Linked DNA regions of Homo sapiens. The protein of the gene in region 4 interacts with the protein of the main gene of each other region in a pairwise test. Each region holds a gene or a part of one and is shown on either strand. Other genes may lie near its edges.

What was found.
Region 1: the proteins of ZNF774 (region 4) and GTPBP3 interact in binary tests that used the Homo sapiens proteins (3 or more experiments, as listed by UniProt).
Region 2: the proteins of ZNF774 (region 4) and USP49 interact in binary tests that used the Homo sapiens proteins (3 or more experiments, as listed by UniProt).
Region 3: the proteins of ZNF774 (region 4) and BEGAIN interact in binary tests that used the Homo sapiens proteins (3 or more experiments, as listed by UniProt).

Annotation. Positions count from the first base shown.
Region 1 is NC_000019.10:17,340,513-17,343,231, reverse strand, and holds the end of GTPBP3 (5-taurinomethyluridine-[tRNA] synthase subunit GTPB3, mitochondrial), read right to left. Parts: intron 2,189-2,719; coding exon 1,910-2,188; intron 1,755-1,909; coding exon 1,529-1,754; 3' UTR 501-1,528; downstream 1-500. UniProt on the Homo sapiens protein: GTPase component of the GTPBP3-MTO1 complex that catalyzes the 5-taurinomethyluridine (taum(5)U) modification at the 34th wobble position (U34) of mitochondrial tRNAs (mt-tRNAs), which plays a role in mt-tRNA decoding and mitochondrial translation.
Region 2 is NC_000006.12:41,892,375-41,899,639, forward strand, and holds the start of USP49 (ubiquitin carboxyl-terminal hydrolase 49), read right to left. Parts: upstream 3,002-7,265; 5' UTR 2,950-3,001; intron 2,765-2,949; exon of another isoform or gene 2,756-2,764; intron 1-2,755. UniProt on the Homo sapiens protein: Deubiquitinase that plays a role in several cellular processes including transcriptional regulation, cell cycle progression or innate immunity.
Region 3 is NC_000014.9:100,536,645-100,542,455, forward strand, and holds the end of BEGAIN (brain-enriched guanylate kinase-associated protein), read right to left. Parts: exon of another isoform or gene 3,936-5,811; coding exon 3,852-3,935; exon of another isoform or gene 3,486-3,851; intron 2,976-3,485; exon of another isoform or gene 2,672-2,975; coding exon 1,325-2,671; 3' UTR 503-1,324; downstream 1-502. UniProt on the Homo sapiens protein: May sustain the structure of the postsynaptic density (PSD).
Region 4 is NC_000015.10:90,355,276-90,362,315, reverse strand, and holds part of ZNF774 (zinc finger protein 774), read right to left. Parts: intron 3,466-7,040; coding exon 3,359-3,465; intron 2,274-3,358; coding exon 1,033-2,273; 3' UTR 1-1,032.

The DNA.
Region 1 (2,719 bases), on a different chromosome or scaffold from region 4:
ACCCATCTCTACTAAAAATACAAAAGTTAGCCAGGTGTGGTAGGGTACACCTATGATCCCAGCTGCTCGGGAGGCTGAGGCACGAGAATGGCTTGAGCTCAGGAGGCAGAGGCTGCAGTGAGCTGAGATCACACCACTGCACTTCAGTCTGGGCAACAGAGCAAGACTCTGTCACACACACACACACACACACACACACACACACACACACACACACACTTTGGGAGGCCACAGGTGGGCAGATCACAAGGTCAGGAGATCAAGACCAGCCTGGCTAACACAGTGAAACCCCATCAAAAAAAAAAAAAAAAAAAAAGAAGACTAAAGACTAAAAAAGGAATGAGGCCAGGCACCGTGGCTCACACCTGTAATCCCAGCACTTTGGGAGGCCAAGACAGCAGGATGGCTTGAGTCCAAGAGCTCAAGACCAGCCTGGGCAACATAGTGAGACCCCCCATCTCCATAATTCTGTTTTTTTTTTAAAAAGAAATGACAATTTGTAGAGCAATGAACACAATACCATTTATATATGATACACAAGACAAACATATTTGAAAGGTACATCCACAAGTATGCAAACATTCAAAGTTCTGGAAAGACACACATTAAGCCATGACAACCACAGAAGGGCTAAGGAAAATTTCCATGTTGAAACACTTCTGGGGCCAGGTGTGATAGCTCACGCCTGTGATCCCAGCACTTTGGGAGGCCAAGGTAGGCAGATTACCTGAGGTCAAGGAGTTCAAGACCAGCCTGGTCAACATGGTGAAACCTTGTCTCTACTAAAAATACAAAAATTAGCCTGGCGTGGTGGTGTGCGCCTGTAGTCCCAGCTACTCAAGAGGCTGAGGCAGGAGAATCACTTGAACCCGGGAGGTGGAGGTTGCAGTAAGCCGAGGTCGCACCACTGAACTCCAGCCTGGGTGACAGAGCGAGACTCTGTCTCAAAAAAAGAAAAAAATTAGCCGGGCATGCTGGCACATGCCTGTAATCCCAGCTACTCAGGAGGCTGAGGCAGGAGAAGCGCTTGAGCCCCGGAGATGGAGGTTGCAGTGAGCCAAGGTCGCACCACTGCACTCCAGCCTGGGCAATAGACAGAGGAGGGAAGGGTAGGGGAAGGGGAAGGGGAAGGGGAAGGGGAAAGGGAAAGGGAAAAGGAAAGGGAAGGGAAGGGAAGGGAAGAAAATAAACACTTCTAGATCACCTGAGTTTTTTTTACATTCCTTTGGTATTTGCAAAATAAATAAAAAACTACGAAACAAATATACTGAGATCCTCCTATCTCCATCCCAACCCGGATGCCCCAGCATCAAGGGTCGAACGGGACCTCCATTCAGCCCCATTCCAGGGCCTGAATCTCCAGGGAGTCCCTGCAGGGATCTCACTACCTCTCAGCTGTGTTGCTTCACTATTTGAGAATCAAGTTCTTTCCCAGGCGAATGAGAATCCCAATTGGCCTAAACTGTTTCCAGATCCCCCGAGGCTCCTGGGTCTCCACGCAGCTTGGGTGCGACTTCCCTGGATCCCGTCACTTGCCCACACAGAAGTCCTGGAAGATGATGTCCAGGATCTCCTCGGTACCCCCTCCACCTGTGAGCCGGGTCAGGTGACCCCGGGCCACCCGCAGCGCCTCTGCCGCCAGGGCCAGGTCTTTTGACTGCTTGTAGTGGCCGAGGGCATCCAGGCAACCCTGGAGGTGGTGCTGGTGCCTTGCTCGGGTCAGCAGCGGGGGATCTGTGGACGGGTCCCCACACCTGGAAGAGACAAGAGACATGGTCTCTCCCGACCTTTTACAACCATCCCTTGAAGGGGAAATGGTTGTACCCATTTTGTAGGTTCAGAAATTGAAGTTGAGGGACCCACACTTAAACTGTGGGTCAGGGGAGGCTGGGAGTGGGAGGGGGCTCACACTGCAGCTAGCTCCTTCCTCAGCGCCTCCAGGAGGCCGTCCAGCCCCTCTCCCGTCAGACAGGACAGCAGCAGGTGCGGGGGCAGGTCAGGACCGGGACCTGGGCCCTCCGGGGACAGCAGGTCCGACTTGTTCAGCACCAGGAGGAGGCGCTGGCTGCTGTCACTGGGGCTCTGGGCTCCCACAGAGGCTACGACGGTGGCCAGGAAGTTGCAACTGGAGGGAGAGGCCAGGTCAGAAGCATCCAGCATGGCCAGAATGAGGTCAGCCTGCTCTAGCCTGCGGGAGCAAGGTCAACTGAGCGGGGATCCCAGGTTGAGCAATTGAAGGCACTGGGTGGAGGGACAGTTAGAGGGGCCAGGCAGAGCACTGGGGGAGCTGCGAAGCGTGAGGTCGGGAGGGAGGAGTAGAGTACCAGGGGACCGGCAGAATGTTGGGGGCCCAAGCCGAGCACAGGGGGTGGGGCAGAGCAAGAGGGGCGGGGCACAGTGCAGGGGGAAGGGCAGAGCAAGAGGAGCGGTCACGGTGCGGGAGCGGGGCAGAGCAGGAGGGGCTGGGCACAGTGCAGTGAGTAGGGCAGGGCAGGAGGGGCGGGGCACAGCACAGGAGGGCGGGGCAGAGCAAGAGGGGCAGAGCACTGTGCAGGGGGAAGAGCAGAGCAAGAGGGACAGGGCACAGCACAGGGGCTGGGACAGAGCAAAAGGGGCCGGGTACAGCACTGGAGTGGGGCGACCATGAGTGGCGGGGCAGAGCAAGAAGGACCAGACACACCACAGGGTAAGGGGTAGAGAGCACCAGGGGTGGGGCAGA
Region 2 (7,265 bases), on a different chromosome or scaffold from region 4:
ACACATCTCACTGAAACAAGTGCCTCATATCAAAGTTATTCTTCATCTTGAAAGTCAACATTATCAAACTAATCCTTTTAAAATGTAGTGGCAAAAATAGTAATTTTTACCAAGATCCTCTGTTAAATTGCTAAATACATCTAGTAACCTTGAACACTTGCTTAATACAATCCAGGAAACAAACCATAAACTAAATACTATGCCACTAACACAGTAGCTGAATGCAGAAAGAGTTTTCTAAATTATACATTAACCATTGTTGCTCAAATCCACAAATCAAAATCTAATCTTTGTTAACTACTACAAAAGTCATAAACCTAATCTTTGTTATTTATACAAACACCAGCAAAAGTGTCAATCCAAAATTTACCCAACTTTGAAAAAAAAAGTATCTTTGTGCATCTGAGTGTACACAATGAAATAACCCCAAAGAAGATTCTCAACAATTGTTTGAATTTTTCCCTAAGTAAATCATATGCTATCCTTTGGCACCATCAAATGCAAAACAAATATTCATTCATATTCTTAGCTAAATGTAAAAGCTTCTGAAAAAAATCATTAAAACAAAATTCTAAGTAAGAATAACCAAATTTTGCCCCAAATTTCTTATCTTCCTTTTCATTTCTAAAGGTGTCTTAAAAATCAAAAGCTTCTAGAAAATTAGTATTAATCTGGCCTTCTTTATTCATAACCATAAAACACGAAAGGCAGTGGAGCTGTCCAAAGACCAAGCTTGCTGCAGTATTATCTTACAGAGATGTTTTTCCATCAAAATTACTCATAAATTTATTTGCCCTAAAAAATAAGTCTGCTACTCTAAAATCCTCCACTACTCTACAATTCTCCCTTTCTTTATGCCATTTTGTTAAATGGGTGAGTTACCAACTACAGCATGAAACGTCCCGCACAAAGCTAAAGGCAGCTCAGGAACTCAAAGCCCTCAGCTCTGATTTAATCTCTCCCCCAGTAAACTTCCTTGGTTGGTTATCTGCCTTTCTCTGAAATGATTTCTTAACATTCTCCAGCAACTGAAAACAATAAGCAGAAATCTGGTTGATTAATCAAAAGAAACAGATTCTCATCTTTCTCTATCCCAACAACAGTGCGTTCTCCATTGAAAATGAAAATGCTGTCCATAAAACACAGCCCAGCACTTGTCAGGTGCAACACTCCTACAACACTAAAACTATCACATCACACGAGTACACCCTAAATAAGCACACCCTTTCCCCGAATTATCACAACACTAGTGAAATGCAGAGGTTTTCAACACCCAGAGTTTATACTTTATCATCCATACAAGAAAAAAATCAAATCAAAATGAGTCTCATTTCTTCAAAGTGGACAGGAAAGTCAAATCAAAAGCAATGAAGGGTGGAAGCAGATTCAAGATTTCTTGAGAGAAAGAGGTTTCTGGAATTTCCTACTTTTAGGGACAAAAGGATTCACAGTTTCAACACACAGTTCTCTCCTCAACAAAGAATTCCTTTCCTGCACCCCCCACCTCTGCCCTTACTTTTTAGTCTTTACCCCTGTCTCTAGGTCCCCTTTCACTCACCATGGTTCCTCGTCTTCTGCACCAAAGGCTCTCTTACACTTGATCTTTCACTACAGCATTTCTGCCCTGACCCTTGCAGACCTTCTGGAGCAACTCCCCATAACACGCACATTCGATTCCCACCCCCCTGCAGTCTACCCCAGTTCTACATCCATCAGGACTCCCCCAGCTTCTCTTAGCCCCCTCTCTTCCCTTACTCCCCATCTCATCCTTTAAATTCTGGGGCCCATCTCTTCCTGCTCCTCTCACCATTTGCTTTTAGCCCTGTCTCTTTACCTCACTGTTTTCACCTTGGATCTTGCTGAACCTCTTCAATTAACGTAATTACCCAGTTATCCTTGTCCCAGATGGCCATCACTTCTTACACCCTAACTCTAGTCTCCTTTCAGCTCTTCTGGTCCCAGAATCGTCCTACAGACACCCATCTCTTATCTGTTTCCTTTCGCCCTTCCACCACACTCTTATTCCTGACTCCACCTGGTTCCAGTCCAGGTCTCATTTGCCCTCCCTCACTTTACAGAATTTACATCCATCGCCCACCCACTAACCCATTCCTTTCTCAGAACCTCGCCAGCAGTTCCCACCACACCGTTGGTCCCAGTCCTTCAGCTCATCTCGCTCCGCACTAGTTCACACCCTCGTCACGTCTGGCTCTTAATCACTCTCTCTTTCCTACTCCCAACTATTACCCCAGCTCTGCCCCTCCTTGTCTTCCACTTCCAACACTTACCCCGGTACCCCTCACCCCAACACCACCCGCTACGAAGATTTCCCCTTCAAACCCCTGCTCTTACACCTAACCCCAGGATCCCTTTCCCCAGCCCTAACCTCATTCCCTGCCCGGCTTCCTTAACGCCCACCCTGGCTTTTGCCTCCTTCCTATCTCCTTGGCTGGCTTTTTCTCACTCCTCCTCTCCCTGGCTTCTAACCCTTTCTCCCCTTAATCCTCCTCATCTCATTCTCAACCCGGTTCCCCTCATCGCCTCCAAGCCTTCCTTTCCCTCTCCCTTCAACGCTTTTGCCCCAACCCAGCCGTCGCCCACCCCGCCAAAATAAGGCGCCCGCGCGCCCCGACTCCCGGCTCTCGCCTCCCGCCGCCCCCGCCCCGGGCGCCCCCAGCCCGCCGGCGCCGCGGTCCCGCCCCCTGCCGCCGCTCCTCCCGCCCGCGAGGCGCGCGCTGCCTTTGTCGCCCCTCACCCGGTGTGTGAGGATTTTGCTTCTTTAAAGGGGAGGGCTAGTGAGCCGGAGACTCCTATCCCCGCCTCCGAGTCTTAGAATGGGCTCCCTGGCCGTCGCGGCCTCCCCGGCCCCCGTTCCCCCTACCCCCTGGAGCTACCCACTTTGCTGCCTCCCCACCTCCTCCGTCCCCTCCCCCGGCCCCCTCTATTTACCGCCATCATCAGCACGCGCGAGCTGTCACCAGGGCGCGAGACAACCGAACACGGCCCCGCCCCCTGCCCGTCTATTGGCCCGCCCGCTGGAGCCCCGCCCCTCAGGCCCTGCATTGCGCCAACGGCGCAGCGCTGGGCCGCGACCCCGGCACCGGCACCCGTTCCGAGGGTTCGCGCCGCAGGCGCAAAGTTTAGGGTCAGCCACAAACGCGCGGCCGCTTTGAGCCTGGCGTAAGGGGCGGCGGCGTAGGGGGACGTTGTGAATAGCTGGTCGAAGTTTGGTTGAAGCACAGGAGGGTAAATAAGAAGGTTTCCAGACAAAGAGACTCTTAAAGGTACAGACTCTTATGTCTGTCCCTCCTCCTTAAAGGGCCAGAGACGCTCCCGAGCCCATCTCCGCCCCCTTCTTCCCGGGGAACTGTAAAGGTATTTTACATGAGTTTCCCATACTCTTTTCGGTTCACCTTTAACACCTCTCCCCACTGCGAAGGACAAAGGCTTTCTCACTATCCCGTCCGTATGTTTTGTTTTATTCTGTTAAAAGACGTTATTTCTGTGTTGTTCCTAAAGCAGCAGCCCTCAAACCGTGGGGTTTCCGGAGGCAGCGTTTGCAAAAGTTACTATTGGCTCCCAGGCGGGTGAGCACGTGTCTGGCTTTTGCCACAGATGACCCAAGAGAGATTCAGCTGTTTTATGGAAATCCCCCACAAGTTAGAGGATCGCTGCCGGAACTGAAGAAGTTCAGCAGATTGTAAGGCTTGGGAAATAAACCAGACTGACTTGGTAGTGGTCCATTGGGAAACAGAACAGCACCTAAGCTACAAAAGGCTTAGGTTAAGCAGTCTCCTAGGTGCACTGTCTTGAAACTACTTGCGGGGTGGTAGTGGGGGGAGGGGATGGGAGTCTCCCAAAATAAGATCAACAATTTCAACACCCAACACATAGCTAAGGCAGATAAAGACTTACATTTAAATATAAGGACAAGTAAAAGAAACAGACATTAGCTATAGTAGTGGCTCAAGTTACACACCTGTAAACAGGAGAACTAGGTAAGCACAAAAAAAAAAAAAAGAACACCACACACAATAGGAAGGGGGAAACTACAATGCCTGGACCAAGCGCTGTGTAGGCAATTTATTAACAACTTGCACTTTTAAAAGAGGTTTGATAGAAGGAGAGGAAGTGGAGTGTTTCAATTTGGTTTGGTCGGGATTTATCATGAGGTTCAAGGCCTCAGAGTTAGATTCAGAATTTAGCTCTCCCTTTGTCGTCCATCACAGTTAACATAATTCTTTTTAAGGAATTCTTAACATTATAACTCTAATTATATGTCTTATTCCCTTACTCAACAATCCCCAAGAAAATTCTTGGAGAAGAAAGATTGTTACTTATTCAATGTTAGTTCCATAACAAGGTGCTTTTGCTGAGTGAAGAATTTGGGAGCCACTTAAAACTTCCAATGGAAGGGATGCTCCCAGAATAGCAATACAGGAGGAAAAGTTTCTCAGTGATGTGAGCATGTATTAGATCAGTGTTCTCAAAAATGTGGCCTGGAGGCCGGGCACGGTGGCTCACGCCTGTAATCCCAGCACTTTGGGAGGCCAAGGCAGGTGGATCATGAGGTCAGGAGATCAAGACCAGCCTGGCCAACATGGTGAAACTCCGTCTCTACTAAAAATACAAAAATTATCCGGACGTGGTGGCGTGTGCCTGTAATCCCAGCTACTCAGGAGGCTGAGGCAGGAGAATTGCTTGAACCAGGGAGTTGGAGGTTGCAGTGAGCTGAGATCGTGCCACAGCACTCCAGCCTGGCAACGGAGTGAGACTCCATCTCAAAAAAAAAAAAAAAAAAAAAAAAGTGTCGCCTGGAAAGGCCTAGGGATCTCTGAGACCCTTTGGGCTGGGGGGATAGTGGGGTGCCTGAGATCAAAACGATTTTCCTAATAATACTGAGACATATCTGCATTGTCACTGTGATGATATTTGCACAATGATACAAAAGTAGCAATGGGTAAAACTGCTGCCTTAGCACAAATCAAGGCAACTGCACCAAGTTGTGCTAGAGGTCAAGGTATTCTTCACTGCTACAGTAAAAAAACACCTGTTTCAGGCCGGATGGGTGCAGTGGCTCACACCTGTAATCCCAACACTTTGGGAGGCCAAGGCAGGTGGATCACTTGAGGTCAGGAATTCGAGACCAGCCTGGCCAACATGGTGAAACCCCTCTCTCTACTAAAAATACAGAAATTAGCTGGGCGTGGTGGCACGCACCTGTAATCCCAGCTACTCGGGAAGCTGAGGCAGGAGAATCACTTGAACCTGGGAGGCAGAGGTTTCAGTGAGCCGAGATCGCACCACTGCACTCCAGCCTAGGCAACAGAGTGCGACACTGTCTCAAAAAAAAAAAAAAAAAAAACCACCTGTTTCATTTAAGAGGTCTTTGATGAAGACAATAAAAATTGTTTTATTTAAGTACACGTTTATGTGATTAAATGCATGTATGTATGCATCAAGCACTTTTAAGTACAACATTTGTCTTGAGGAAAAGCACTCTTGCAATTTGAGTTTGGAGCTGAATTAATAGCTTTCTTCATGGAACACCGTTTTTATTTGAAAGAACAGCTAACAGACTAGTTGTTCACTGGATATTTGGCAGACATGTTCTTAAAAATAAAGTAGAGCCTGATAGCATTGTCGGTTATGATAAAACTCAAGCCTTTATTTTTATTTTTGGAGACGGAGTCTCACTCTGTTACCCAGGCTGGAGTGGAGTGGCGTGATCTCAGCTCACTGCAACCTCTGCCTCCCAGGTTCAAGCAATTCTCCTGCCTCAGCCTCCTGAGTAGCTGGCACCACAGGCACACGCCACTAACGCCCAGCTAATTTTTTGTATTTTAGTAGAGACAGGGTTTCGCCATGTTGCCCAGGCTGGTCTTGAACTCCTGAGCTCAGGCAGTCTGCCCGCCTCAGCTTCCCAAAGTGCTAGGATTACAGGCGTGAGCCACCGCACCCGGCCTGATAAAACTCAAGCATTTAAGTCAAACAGAATTTCTAACAACTGACTTGTATCTCCCAATGTAAGTTTGATAGCTTCCCATGACTTTTTCTAATAAGACTGGTAGTGGGCCAGGCACGGTGGCTCATGCCTGTAATCCCAACACTTTGGGAGGTCAAGGTGGGCAAATCATTTCAGGCCAGGAGTTCGAGACCAGTCTGGCCAACATGGCGAAACCCCATCTCTACTAAAAATAAAAAAATTAGCTGGGCATGGTGGCGCATGCCTGTAATACCAGCTACTCAGGAGGCTGAGACACAAGAATTGCTTGAACCAGGGAGGCAGAGGTTGCAGTGAGCCGAGATCATGGCACTGCCCTCCAGCCTGGGCAACAGAGCAAGACTCTGTCTCACAAAACTAAAATAAGTCCGGGCACGGTGGCTCATGCCTGTAATCCTGGCACTTTGGGAGGCCGAGGTGAGCGGATTGCCTGAGCTCAGGAGTTCAAGACCAGCCTGCGCAACACAGTGAAACCCCATCTCTACTCAAAATACAAAAAAAATTAGCTGGGTATGGCGGCATGTGCCTTAGTCCCAGCTACCCGGGAGGCTGAGGCAGGAGAATTGCTTGAACCTGGGAGGCGGAGCTTGCAGTGAGCCGAGATGGTGCCACTGCACTCCAGCCTGGGCGACAGAACGAGACTCCATCTCAAAAAATAAAATAAAATAAAATAAAAATAAAAATAAATAAATATGATTTTTTGATACTGTATAATGTGTCAACATTTAGGAGATGTGCAGTGTTTTCCAAATGACCAATGCATGACACTACAAAATCACACATTAGTAAAAGATCCATTCAAAGTGCAAAATAAGGCCAGGTGCAGTGGCTCACGCCTGTAATCCTGGCACTTTGAAAGGCTGAGGCAGGTGGATCACTTGAGCCCAGGAGTTCGAGACTAGCCTGGGCAATATAGCGAGACCCCCATCCCTAAAAAGAAAAAAAAAAAGTGCAAAATAAACCAATAAATATTAATGGAATATAAAAAGTTCACTAATATACTTTGAGGTTCCACATTGCAACTAACCTTTAGCAGAGTTTTGATAGCATCAAAGAATATCCACAATTATCTGAAAAAGTTATGAATATATTTCTCCCTTTTTCCAAATACACATCTGTGGGAGGCTGAATTTTCTTCATATTCTTCAACCAAAATAACATTGAAACAGACTGAATGCAAAAGCAGATATGAGTATTTCACAGTCTTCTATTATGCCAGACATTCAAAAGATTTATGAAAATTAAAAACAATGCTACTCTT
Region 3 (5,811 bases), on a different chromosome or scaffold from region 4:
GGAAACTGCAGAAAGCCAAAGTCAAAGAGAAAATCTTAAAGAGCCGGGGAAAAGAAAGCAATTTTTTTTTTCTAACCAATGGAGCGGCTCCGGGACTGACAGCCAGTTCCCAATACCAACAGGAAGACAGAGCAGAGCGGCAGCATCCCGTGTGCCCGGGAAAAGGCCACCTGCCGACATTCCATCCGTGGCCCCAGTACATCTCAAGGAGCAGAAGCCAAGTCTGAGACACGAGGATTAGGGGCCAGGAAATCGGTGGGGCAGCGCGCAGGAGAATGGGATGAAAGAGCTGTTGTCTCCAGTGGGTTGGGAGAAGCAGGAGAATCCACACCCTAGATAGGAACTTGGATGGCGGGGTGGGGACGGGGTGTTATGGGGATGGGGTGTGAAGTGGGGTTAAGGGGCCCAACTCGGCTGCAGAGAGCAAGGCTGGGGAGGGACACCAGGGACCCCAGGTTCCCGAGACCAAAAGGCAGGAGGAGGAGAAACAGCCCAACCCAGATTCTTTCCACCGGTGTCTTTTATTAATGAATGCAAAATACAGTACTAACTGGCAGGGCATGCATCAGAGACAACAAGAATGCAAGCTACAGAAACCAGGAATGGAGGGCCTCCTCATGTCTGAGGTAGAGTAAGACGGTGTCAGGGGGCGGACCCGGGGGCGGAGATGAGCACCGGCCGCACTGGGGCATCATCCCGGCCCACCCGGGACGATGGGCCGTGGGAGGGCTCAGGGCGGTGTGGTGGCCACACTGCGAAGAATGGATTTTTAAAACACTTCATAGCCCCGAATTTGTTTCAGCTCCCTCTTCGTGGACACAACTTCAGGGCTCCCTTGTCACTGGCTTGCGGGGGTGGTCTCCCCACTTGCAGAGTCTGGTCTCCACAGGACACCGTCCTTCCCTTCCCTTCCAAGGGGCAGGCCCCACGCACCCTCGCCCAAAAAATAAAGGAGCTTTGTGTTGAAAACGCCAAGGCAGCCGTCCAGGGAGCTGGAGGCCAAGTGCGTTAAGAAAGACCCTTTTTCTCTATAAAAATAGTTTCGCTTTATAAAAGGGGGGATGCTCCTCTCACATGGGGGAAGGACGCGTGAAAAACGCTCTAAGTGGAGTTCCACGGGCCGGGGCCGGGTGGACACCGTGGTGTGGGGGACCCTCCCCTCAGGCCTACAGGGCTGGGGAGGAGAGGAGGTGCGGGGAGGAACAGACTCCTCGTTGTTGGCCGGGGCAGGGGAACAGCGGGGGCTGGGGAGAGGTGAGGCCGGCCCTTCTGGGGCACGTGGGCTGGCGGGGAGCGAACCACGGCCAGGCCTGCACGCAGGCGCTCAGTTGAGCAAGGTTCCGTAGAGCTGGGCCTTGGTGAGGCTGTCCTTGCGGCTCAGCCCCGAGCCACCAGTCCGCGGAAAGGCCTGCTGGGGGCTGAGGCGGGCGGCAGGATGCATTTCCGGGGAGGCCTCCATGGAGCTCGGCTCCAAGGAGTCCCTGGAACCCTGCTCGGGCTCAGGGCTGCTGGCGGTCCCACACAGCTGCACCCCGAGCCTGTCCCCGTCCCCCCCCTCGCTGGGTGCATAGCCGGGCAGTGGGTCAGCCGAGCGGCCGGGACTGAGGCTCAGGTCGCCGCCCGCCCGCAGGAAGCAGGGCTCTGCCAGGTGGCCCTGGGAGAGGTCGTCCCCCTCGGAGAAGCTGTCGGCCTTGTAGCTGGCGTAGAGCGGGCTGGCGCGGCCGTCGGCCTTCTTGCCCGGGCTGCCCCCGGCCCCGCCGTAGTAGCGTTCAGAGAAGCTGCAGGGTGAGGCGCGGCCGGCAGCGCTCACGGGGTAGGAGTAGGCGCCGATGTCCTCCACGCTCAGGGGACGCCACTGGCCCCTCATGTCCTCCCCGGGGAGCCGGGCGGTCCCCGGCTTGGCCCGCAGGCTCCACAGGTTTGGGGGCATCAGGGCCTGCTGGGGACCCGGAGAGGCCGGGAAGCGGAAGGTCTCGGCCGGGTACGGTGACATGGTCCGCCCGAAGCCTGGGGCCACTTCGGCCTCCAGCGGGGCCGCCACCGCGGCCGTGGCCTTGGCAAAGCGAGGGCTGCCCTCGTAGGTGGTGGCGGGTGGCTTGCGGTCGAAGAGCTCGTCGCGGCTGTTCAGGTAGATGGCCTGCTGCGACGCGGTCAGCGTGCTGGCCTGCGCGTGCTCCTTCTCCTCCGACGTGGCGCTGAAGCTGGAGTAGGAGCTGGACGTGGGCAGTGAGCCTGCGTAGCTGGGGAAGGCCTCATGCTGGAAGCCCGCCGGGAAGGCCGCCGCCTCGGCCTCCTCCTCCTCCTCGGCCGCGCTGTCAGTGGAGTTCTGGGCCCGCAGGAAGCCCACGTCGGTCACGGGCGCGTCCACGCTAGGCCGCCGGTCTCGCCGCCGCTCCTCCGGGCAGTAGAGGGCTGTGTCACTGCAGTAGATGTCTCCCTTGTAGGGGGGCCGCGGGCCTGGTTTCTCCACCCCGTCGCAGAAGGCCAGGTCGCGGGCGGAGGCATCGGACAGGCGGGAGGACAGGCTGGCGGGGTCCGGCTTCTCCAGCACCTTGGCAATGACGCAGGTGGGGACGCTGTCGGCGTAGGCCGGGTGGCAGAGCGGGGATGGCAGGCTGCAGCCGTGCTTCTCCATGTGCAGGCTCACGCGCTCCTGGAAATCCGAGGGCAGCTGGAACGGGTGCGAGGAGGGGGACGGCGGGTACAGGGTCACTGTTAGCATGGCAGCCCAGCCCTGGCCCTGAAGCTGAGGACTGATGTTAGCCATGACCGACAGGCAGACAGACGAACGGGGGCCTCCCGGCTTCTCAAATCACACCAGGGGGAGCCTGGATCCAGGACGCTGTACTGAACAAGCTCCCAGGGGTGTGGGTGCTGTGACTGCCTGGGGATCCTGGGTCACCTCTCCCCACCCCACTCTGATTGGGCCCAGGAGAGCCCAGAAGCTGCAGTCGCCTGGAGAAGCCGGAACCCAGGTCTGATTCAGGCCCCACTCAAGGCTCCACCCCCCGCCACCCCCACCCCACCCATTTTGTGCCCAGCGAGGGGTTGACTTGCTCTCCCAGGCCCGTGGGTTCTGTGGGTTCTACTGGGGGCATGACCCACTCCCCAGCCCCCCAGTCATGCTGCTGGAGCGCTCCTGAAGAAGACAGACTCAGATGCAACAAAGATTGAGGGCCAGGGCTGAGAGCGCCTGGTGCCATGTGGGGGTGTCCCGCTACTGTTTGATCTATTTTGTGAGTGTCTCAGGCATGGCCCAGGACCAGGGGAAAGGAACGCACAGGCCTGGCTGGGAGATTGCATGTGAGGGGAGGGTCGGGGGACGGGGTGCGCAGGGTGCGGCGACCATAGGCGGGCAGGGGTGGGCCTCTGGCCCATCTGCCCTTGGCATCAGACAGGCCTGGTTCTGGGTCCTGGCTCTGCTACCTGCCTGCCACGTGGCCTCAGCCACGCCCTCTTTCCTGAATGTTTTCTTTCTGAAATAGGCACTGCCGGTCATCGTGCCCAGCCACAGGCTCCTGCGAAGCTCCACAAAGGTCACTCTGCCGTGTCAGCGCTCAGTGGAAGCAAGGACCTGGAGCAGCCCCCCAAAGGAAACCGAGGGCAACCAGCAGCCGGGGTGGGCCAAAGGGACTCTGGTGAGGGCCAGGGGCTGCCCGGCTGCGTGAGGTGGGGTGCCTTTGGCGGCCCCTCCAATGTCATGACCCCACAGGAGCGAGGGGGACAGAGGAGGCTCAGGCTCAGCTGGCATCTTCCTCCTCAAAGATGGGAAATGGCTTTGGGGTAGCACTGGCACAAAAGGAGCCCGGTGGTCCCGGGGCGGGGTGGGCCTGGCTGCGGGGCCACGTTACCTCAGACACCTTGTGGACCCTGCCGTAGGTCTGGCTGCACTGCAGCAGCTGGGCCGCTAGATTGCAGTCCTTCCTATAGAGCTCCTAAAAGACAAGAGAAGGCGTTTGGCGCCATTCACCCCAGCCAAGGCCCCGCCGCCCTGACCAGCGCCAAGTGGCCAGCGGGGGCAGTGGTGTGCACAGGGCCTGCTGTGCGCTCAGCAGGACAAGGACCCACTGCTGGCTCCGGCCCTCTCTGGCCTCCACACTCTTGCCTGCAAAATGAGAGCCTCTTTCTGACCTGGGGCTGCCGGAGCATGGAGGGCCCTGCCGCTGCCCTAGCTGGTGCCCTTGAGCACTGCCAAGATGGGAACCTCCCACAAGGTGGGGGGCAGTGGTAGAAGAAGGAGCCCCAATGGCCCTGAGCTCCCCCAGGCTCGTAGAGCAGGCCTGGTCTCCCTGTCCCTGTCCCTCAGGCTCTCGGCGTCCTTCCAAAGATGACGGGGTGGGAGTGCCAGGCAGGAATGGGAGGCAGGATGAACCCCCAGCACCTTCCACCCCGCACTTCAGACTTGCTGCTCACAACCCTCTTCCCAGAGTGTGGTTTGGAAACAGTGTGGCTGCAGGGCTGGGCAGGGACTGGGCAGGTGTGTGACCTCAGGCCCAGGCGGGCGCTGGCTCAGCCTCCTGAGCTGAAAACAGATGCAAACAGTAGGACTCAAGGGGTGTGGCTTCGCCACTGAAAATCTCTGTTGCATGTGCCTGTGTTTGGGGCTTGCATTCCCGCCCCTCCGGGGTCCCCACTGCGAGGGCTCTGACAGCTAGCCCTGGGGTGGCCCGGAGGCCCAGTGACCCACCTGAGCTGCCCCATGGCTGCTCCTGGCAAGGGCTGGCCACAGTCCCAACCCAGCCAGCACCAGGCATCCTGCTGTCCAGGCAAGGCTGTCTCTGACACAGGCACCTTTCTGTCCCCCCACCACGGCCCTGGAGCCTCCCTCACTGAAGGCTGGTGCCCCCAACTTGGCCTACACGGTGGAGGGCGTCGGAGTCGCCAAACCCCTCTCAGTGCCTCCCTGGGCCTCCTAGGAACAGAACAGCACGGCTGCCTGAGAGCTGAGAACTGACCCCTTGTATGACCCCAGTCGACCGGCTGCCCCTGGCACCAGAGGGCTGCAGGCACTGCCCAGCCAGCCCAGGTCTGCCACTGAGCCCCACCAGCCACAGCCAGGAGTGGCTGCCACTGGGAAGCCGGTGCCATGCCCATAGCCCCTGGGGCACCTGGCTGAGTACCCAAGCCCCTGGGCTGTCCATGTCTGAGGTGGCCAGCTCTGGGACAGCTGGGAGCCTTTCCTGAGCAGCCGCAGCTGCTGGCTCGGGGAGGAAATGCTCACGGGACACTCTGGCAGAGCGAACAGGTGGAGGCAAGCACTCTGGCCACCCAGGGCCCGGGGCTGCTGGAGTCGGAGTCCCGAGGTTGAGTTCTGGCTCCGTCTGCGAGACACCACCTGGGTCACCTGGGAAACCACTCAAGCTGGCCATGCCTTAGTTTCCTCATGTGCACCAACCCTGCAGAGAGGGCCCCAGGACTAGTGTCCACTTAGGTAAGGGGCCTGGCCTTGTCACGTTAAGAAGCACCTCCTGTCCCGAGCCCATGTCCTCCTGTCCTCCTGTTAGAGCCACACTCCTTAGAAGGGTGGCCTGTGTCTGGAACCACCGCTCCACTCCACCACCGACCTCCAGTTCCCCAAATCCCAATGCCTCTCCTTGGCCCTCTGACCTGGTCTCTCAGCAGCTGGCAAGCCAGCCGGCCAGGGCATTGACTGCAGCCCCCTTCTCAAGTGGTTGTTGGGCCACCATACTCGCCTGGTGTCCCCCAGCCTACTGGCCACTCCCTCCCAGGCATCCTTGCTGGTCCCTACTCCGTCCTGGGGCCTCCCTGCTTCTCATCTGCATGCTGCCTGGGCAGTCTCCGCCGGCATGC
Region 4 (7,040 bases):
ATACACTGCCATACACTGCCATTTAAAAGAGCTTCTGAAATTCTTTCAGCCTCCAAGTCACAAGACCGCAAACATCCTCTACGATAATTTGGCCTTGTCATGGCAGTGAGACCTCTGGTGACTAATGCCTGCACAGCACTGAACTGGCAGTGCATTTCCATTTTATTCAATTTGTGTATTCCAACCCCAAACCTTCTAGTTCCAATCTAATTTCTTTCACGTTCTGAGTTTGGGGCGGGGGGACTACACTAATAAATTTCTAATTGAGTAATAAGACTGATAAAAGCCACCAATCTTGTACTGAGTGTCTTTTAAGGGCCAGGTACTGCATTAAAGCCTTTATATAAGACCTCAACTATTAATCATTAATAATGATGGGACCATTTAGTTATTGAGCATCTATGTTGTGCCAGGCACTGTACTAGGTGGTGAACATGTGATCTCTAGGCCACATTTTTCTCACTTCTCATTTAGTAACTAGGCATCAACTTTTTAATTTTTTTGGAGACAGAGTCTCTCTCTGTTGCCCAGGCTGGAGTGCAGTGGCATGATCTCAACTCACTGCAACCTGCACCTTCTGAGTTCAAATGATTCTTCTGCCTCGGCCTCCCGAGTAGCTGGGACTACAGGCACGTGCCACCATGCCCAGCTAATTTTTGCATTTTTAGTAGAGATGAGGTTTCACCATGCTCACCAGGCTGGTCTCAACTCCTGACCTCAAGTGATCCACCCACCTTGGCCTCCCAAAAGTGCTGGGATTACAGGGGTGAGCCACCACGCCTGGCGGGCATCAACTATTAAACTCACATTTCCCTAAGAGTCAGTCACACACTGAAGGAATGCCTTTTGTATTCGGACCGTTATTTGGACCCTTTAAGTTTATCCTCTCTGTTATAACATAGACAAGAAAGAGGGAGAATAGATCAGGGCCCAAATTGAGCCACTGACGCCCAGGTTTTCTCTATTTGGGGTGCTTGAAGACAGTAGCAATGAAAATGTGCAAGGGAGCAGCTGAACACCAAAGACTACTTCCTAAATCAAATGGGTGTTTTGATGGCATAAAAGATGCGCTTTCTGACGGAAGCTCTTGTTACATTTACTACAGTGGAAAGGTTTTTCTCCTGTATGCGTTCTCTGGTGTGTGAGGAAATGGGAACGCTGATTGAAGGTCTTGCCACACTCAGGACATCGATAGGGCCTGTCTCCTAAGTGGATTCGCTGATGGGTAATAAAGTGGGAGCTCTGATTGAAGCTCTTCCCACACTCTCCACATTTGTAGGGTCTTTCTCCGGTGTGGATTCGTTGGTGCTTAATGAGGGCGGAGCTGTCGGCGAATCCTTTCCCACAGTTTTCGCACTTAAAAGGTCTCTCACCTGTGTGTGTTCTTTGGTGCGTGACCAAATGTGAGCTCTGACTGAAGCTTTTGTGGCAGTCAGGACAACTGAAAGGCCTCTCTCCTGAATGAGTGCTCATGTGAGCTACAAAATGAGAACTATCTCTGAAGCCCTTCCCGCACTCCGGGCATTTGAAGGGCCGTTCTCCCGTGTGGGTTCGTTGGTGCTTAATCAAATCCGAGCTCTGGCTAAAACTCTCCCCACAGTCATTACACCTGTAAGGCTTCACCCCTGTGTGGGTCCTCTGGTGAGTGATGAAATTTGAGCTTCGACTGAAGCTTTTGTGACATTCCAGGCACGCGTAGGGCTTCTCGCCTGTGTGGGTTCTTTGGTGCATTATGAGGTGTGGCTTCCGCCCAAAAGTCTTTCCACACTCTGGGCACTCATAGGGTCTCTCCCCTGTGTGGGTTCTCTGATGTTTGATGAGTGTTGAGCTGTCGCTGAATTTCTTCTCACACCCCTTGCATTGGTAGGGCTTCTCTCCTGTGTGTGTTCTGCGATGGGTGACAAGGTCTGAGCTCTGTTTGAAGCCTTTCCCACACTCAATGCACGTATAGGGCCTCTCGCCAGTGTGGGTTCTTAGGTGTCTTATGAGATAGGAACTCTGGTTAAAGCTTTTCCCGCATTCTGCACACATAGGCTTCTCTCCTACATATCCATCCAGGAGCTTGTTTAAATCCCTCTCCTGTGAAAAGGACTCCAGCTGGCCCTCTCCTGGAAGGGTTCCATGTTGCCCTTCTAATTCTAGGCCTTGCTCCCAGTTTCCTCCCCAACTAAGAGTATGAGAAAGATCTTTATTGGTCCTTTCTGAGGATGTTCCACATTGTTCTGCTGTTTCAGAATTGTCCTGATTGAGCTTTGCCACCTGATGCTCACAGTCTGAAAAATTAATGTAAGTAACAGAGAATAAAGTTATCAGTTATCAGGAAGGAATATCAGAAAGCAGTGACAAAGATTAAAATCCCTGTTTCTGCAGCAGACTGCACTTAATTCAACCGCTCTGTTTTCACTTTGTGAAAAGTTTATTGAGGTTCATTGAGCTGTCAGAACACGTGAATTCCTAAACTTTTTAAATTTTAAGATGGCCAGATGAATCTTGATATCCTTCAAGCGGAGACCACATATTGTCAATATTGTGCGGTTTCTTTAGAAGATATTATAGGTTTAGGCCAGGCGTGGTGGCTCACGCCTATAATCCCAGCACTTCGGGAGGCCGAGGCAGGCAGATCACTTGAGGTTGGGAGTTCGAGACCAACCTGGCCAACGTGGTGAAACTCCATCCCTACTAAAAATATGAAAATTAGCTGGGCGTGGTGGCGGGTGCCTATAGTCCCAGCTACTTGGGAGGCTGAGGCAGGACAATCACTTGAACCCGGGAGGCGGAGGTTGCAGTGAGCAGAGATTGTGTCACTGCACTCCAGGCTGGGAGACAGAGGGAGACTCCATCTCAAAAAAAAACATAGGTTAGACAAAAGTGAAATGCTTAATCAAAATGAAGACTTTATTTAGTCAACTACTGACCATTAAGTCAAATTTAAATGTCTGCTAGTGGCCGGGCGCGGTGGCTCACGCCTGTAATCCCAGCACTTTGGGAGGCCGAGGCGGGTGGATCATGAGGTCAGGAGATCGAGACCATCCTGGCTAACAAGGTGAAACCCCGTCTCTACTAAAAATACAAAAAATTAGCCGGGCGCGGTGGCGGGCGCCTGTAGTCCCAGCTACTCGGGAGGCTGAGGCAGGAGAATGGCGTGAACCCGGGAAGCGGAGCTTGCAGTGAGCCGAGATTGCGCCACTGCAGTCCGCAGTCCGGCCTGGGCGACAGAGCGAGACTCCGTCTCAAAAAAAAAAAAAAAAAAAAAATGTCTGCTAGTAAGAACAAAATTCTAAGGCAGCATTCCAAATTCTTCATCTAAACAAGGCTGAAATGCTAGATTTCCTTCCACTGGGGAGCACTCACATCTCACCTGTGTGGCTTTCCCTCGGGATCTTCCTCGCCTCAAAGTTTTGGAGTGGTAGGACCCATGGCTCTTCTTTCTGCTCCGGCTGGGAGATTACACTAGGCCTGGAAATTCTACACAGGAATGTAAACATAGGATGTGAGTCTGAGCCAATCACACAAGGCCTGAGCAAAATCCAAGCCCTACTCCCTGCCTAGGTATGGAAGAACACCTGGGGAGCTCTAACGTGTATTTGGTGTCATTAAAAAAGTGCAGCCATGGTACAGTGATAAAACACGGTGATTTCCCCAAAATGTTAAGAAAAAAAAGCCCTTTTCCTCCCATAAAGAAAAAAAACCAGACTCAGGTGACAGAAACTCTGAAGTAAATACAATAACCATTTCTGAAGGTACAAGGCTAAAGCTAAATATGGAGAGGATTTTATCAGAAACCAAGCCTCCATGACCTCACCCTTAGAAACAATGAAGGAAGTTAACTATAATGTTGGGCTTTAAAATTTTCCCAGAATGGCAGCAGTCAAAAAAGCCATGAGAAAAAGACAAACAGTTGTTAAGTAGCCTGTAAATATACGAAAAATGTTTAACCTCACTATAATCAAAGAAATTCCATTATAACAATGATACACTGAGGCAATATAGTGTAGAGGTAATGAGTGCAAACTCAAGAGTCACACTGCCTGGGTCTGAGTCATCATCCTGCCTCTTACAAGCTGTGTGGCCTTAAGAAAGTTACTTAAACTCTGTGTCTCAATGTCTTCATCAATAAAATAGGGATAAGAGGCCAGGCTCAGTGGCTCACACCTATAATCCCAGAACTTTGGGAGGCCGAGGCAGGCGGATTACGAGGTCAGGAGTTTGAGACCAGCCTGGCCAACATAGTGAAACCCCGTCTCTACTAAAAATTAGCCGGGCATGGTGGCACAGGCCTGTAGTCCCAGTTACTCGGGAGGCTGAGGCAGGAGAATCGCTTGAACCCAGGAGGCAGAGGTTATGGTGAATCGAGGTCACACCACTGCACTCCAGCCTGGACGACAGAGAGAGACTCCATCTCAAAAAAAAAAAAAAAAATTGGGATAAGAATAAGATCCATTGGCCAGGTGCAGTAGCTCACACCTGTAATCCCAGCACTTTGGGAGACCAAGGCAGTTGGATCACTTGTGAGGCCAGGAGTTTAAGAGCAGCCTGTCCAACATGGAGAAATCCTGTCTCTACTAAAAATACAAAAATTAGCCACGTGTGGTGGTGCACACCTGTAATCCCAGCTACTTGGGAGGCTGAGGCATGGGAATTGCTTGAGCCTGGGAGGCGGACGTTGCAGTGAGCTGAGATTGCACCACTGCATTCCAGCCTGGGCAACACATTGAGACTCCATCTCCAAAAAAAACTTCAATAAATGTTAACTATTATTGCTATTTTTCCCAGACTCTTTTTTTGTGTTTTGTGTGTGTGTTTGTTTGTTTTTGAGACAGGCTCTTGCTCTGTCACCCAGGCTGGAGAGCACTGGTACAATCACAGTTAACTGCATCCTCGAGCTCCTGGCTCAAGCGATTCTCTCACCTCAGCCTCCCAAGTAGCTGGGACCAGAGGCACAAGCCCCTACACCTGGTTAATGTAACTTTTTGTAGAGACAGGGTCTCATTATGTTGCCCAGGCTGGTCTGGAACTCCAGAGCTCAAGTGGTCCTCCTGCCTCAGCCTCCCAAAATGCTGGGATTATAGACATGAGCTGCCACACCCAGGCCCAGACTCTTTAAATTATAATACCCACTGTGAAAGGTAGAATATAAAGAAATGCGCACTTTCATATAATGTTTGTGGGAATAAATCAATTGATTCAATCTTCTTGGAAGGCATTTTGCAAAGTATTAAATACCTTAGAAATGTATCTGTTCTTTGACCCACCAATTCTAATTCTGAGAATTCTAAGAAAATGATAAAATTATACTTCAATAAAAAATACTTTTTAAAAAACGAGCTAAAAGATGTTTATCACAACCTGGTGAAAGTTTAGAAATGACCTAAATGTCCCACAACAAAGGAATAATTATATAGCTCACTGCAGCCTCGAACTCCTGTGCTGAAGGGATCCTCCTGCCTCAGCCTCCCAAGTAGCTCAGGCAATTGCTATTTTTATAGGTTAAAAAAAGGTCAGATATATGGTTCAATCTAATGTTTGACTTCATCAACAAAATAATATTGTATTCCATAAAACAAAATACTAGGTGGTTATTTTAAGTGATGTAAAGAAAGATATACTCACAATACAACATGGAAGAAAGAATGTACAGCTGAATATACAGCATAATCCCAATATTATTCTTTTGTGCTTCTTTTAAAATTGTATATATGCTTAGAAAAATGCTGGTAGGATAGTAACTCTTCATTGGTGGGATTAGGGATGATGTTTGTTTTCATTTTGCTTGACTTTTTATTGAATGAGTATACATTACTTGTATAATAGATGAAGTAGGCCAGGCGCAGTGGCTCACACCTCTAATCTCAGCACTTTGGGAGGCCAAGGCCAGCGGATCACTTGAGGTCAGGAGTTCAAGACCAGCCTGGCCAACATGGTGAAACCTCGACTCCACTAAAAATACAAAAATTAGAGCTGGGCCCACTCCTATAATCCCAGCACTTTGGGAGGCCGAAGTGAGCGGATCACTTGAGGTCAGTAGTTTGAGACCAGCCTGACCACATGGAGATAACCCATCTCTACTAAAAATACAAAAAATTATCCAGGAATCGCTTGAACCTAGGAGGCAGAGGTTGCAGTGAGCCGAGATCATGCCATGGCACTCCAGCCTGGGCGACACAGCGAGACTCTGCCACAAAAAAAAAAAAAGAAAGAAAGAAGTAAAGCAGGAGGAAGGGTAGCCATGATATTTGAGAAAGAGCATTGGAGGTGTTTTTGGTTTTTTTTATTTATTTTTTTTTTTTTGAGATGGAGTCTTGCTCTGTCGCCCAGGATGGAGTGCAGTGGCATGATCTTGGCTCACTGCAAGCTCCGCCTCCCAGTTCACGCTGTTCTCCTGCCTCAGCCTCCCGAGTAGCTGGGACTACAGGTGCCCACCACCATGCCTGGCTAATTTTTTGTATTTTTAGTAAGACGGGGTTTCACCATGTTAGCCAGGATGGTCTCGATCTCCTGACCTTGTGATCTCCCTGCCTTGGCCTCCCAAAGTGCTGGGATTACAGGCATGAGCCACCGCGCCCAGCCTTGTTTTTTTTTTTTTTTTTTTTTTTGAGACAGAGTCTTGCTCTATTGCCCAGGCTGGAGTGCAATGGCGTGGTCTCAGCTCACTGCAACCTCCACCTCCCAGGTTCAAGCAATTCTCCTGCCTCAACCTCCAAAGTAGCTGGGATTACAGGCGCCCGCTATCACACCCAGCTAATTTTTTTATTTTTAGTAGAGACAGGGTTTCATCATGTTGGCCAGGCTGGTCTCGAACTCCTGACCTTATGATCCGCCCACCTCAGCCTACCAAAGTGCTGGGATTACAGGCGTGAGCCACTGCCCCCAGCCTGTTTTTAAGTGACAGAAAAAATTACCTCCTTTTCCACAAAGACCTCAGAAGTCTCAGAAGTTAAGTGGCAGAGGTGAGAGTCCAACCCAGGCTGGAAAAGGGGGATAGTAATACATAAGTCAAAAAGTTATGATGAGATATTAAAAGGACAATAAATAGCAAAGAC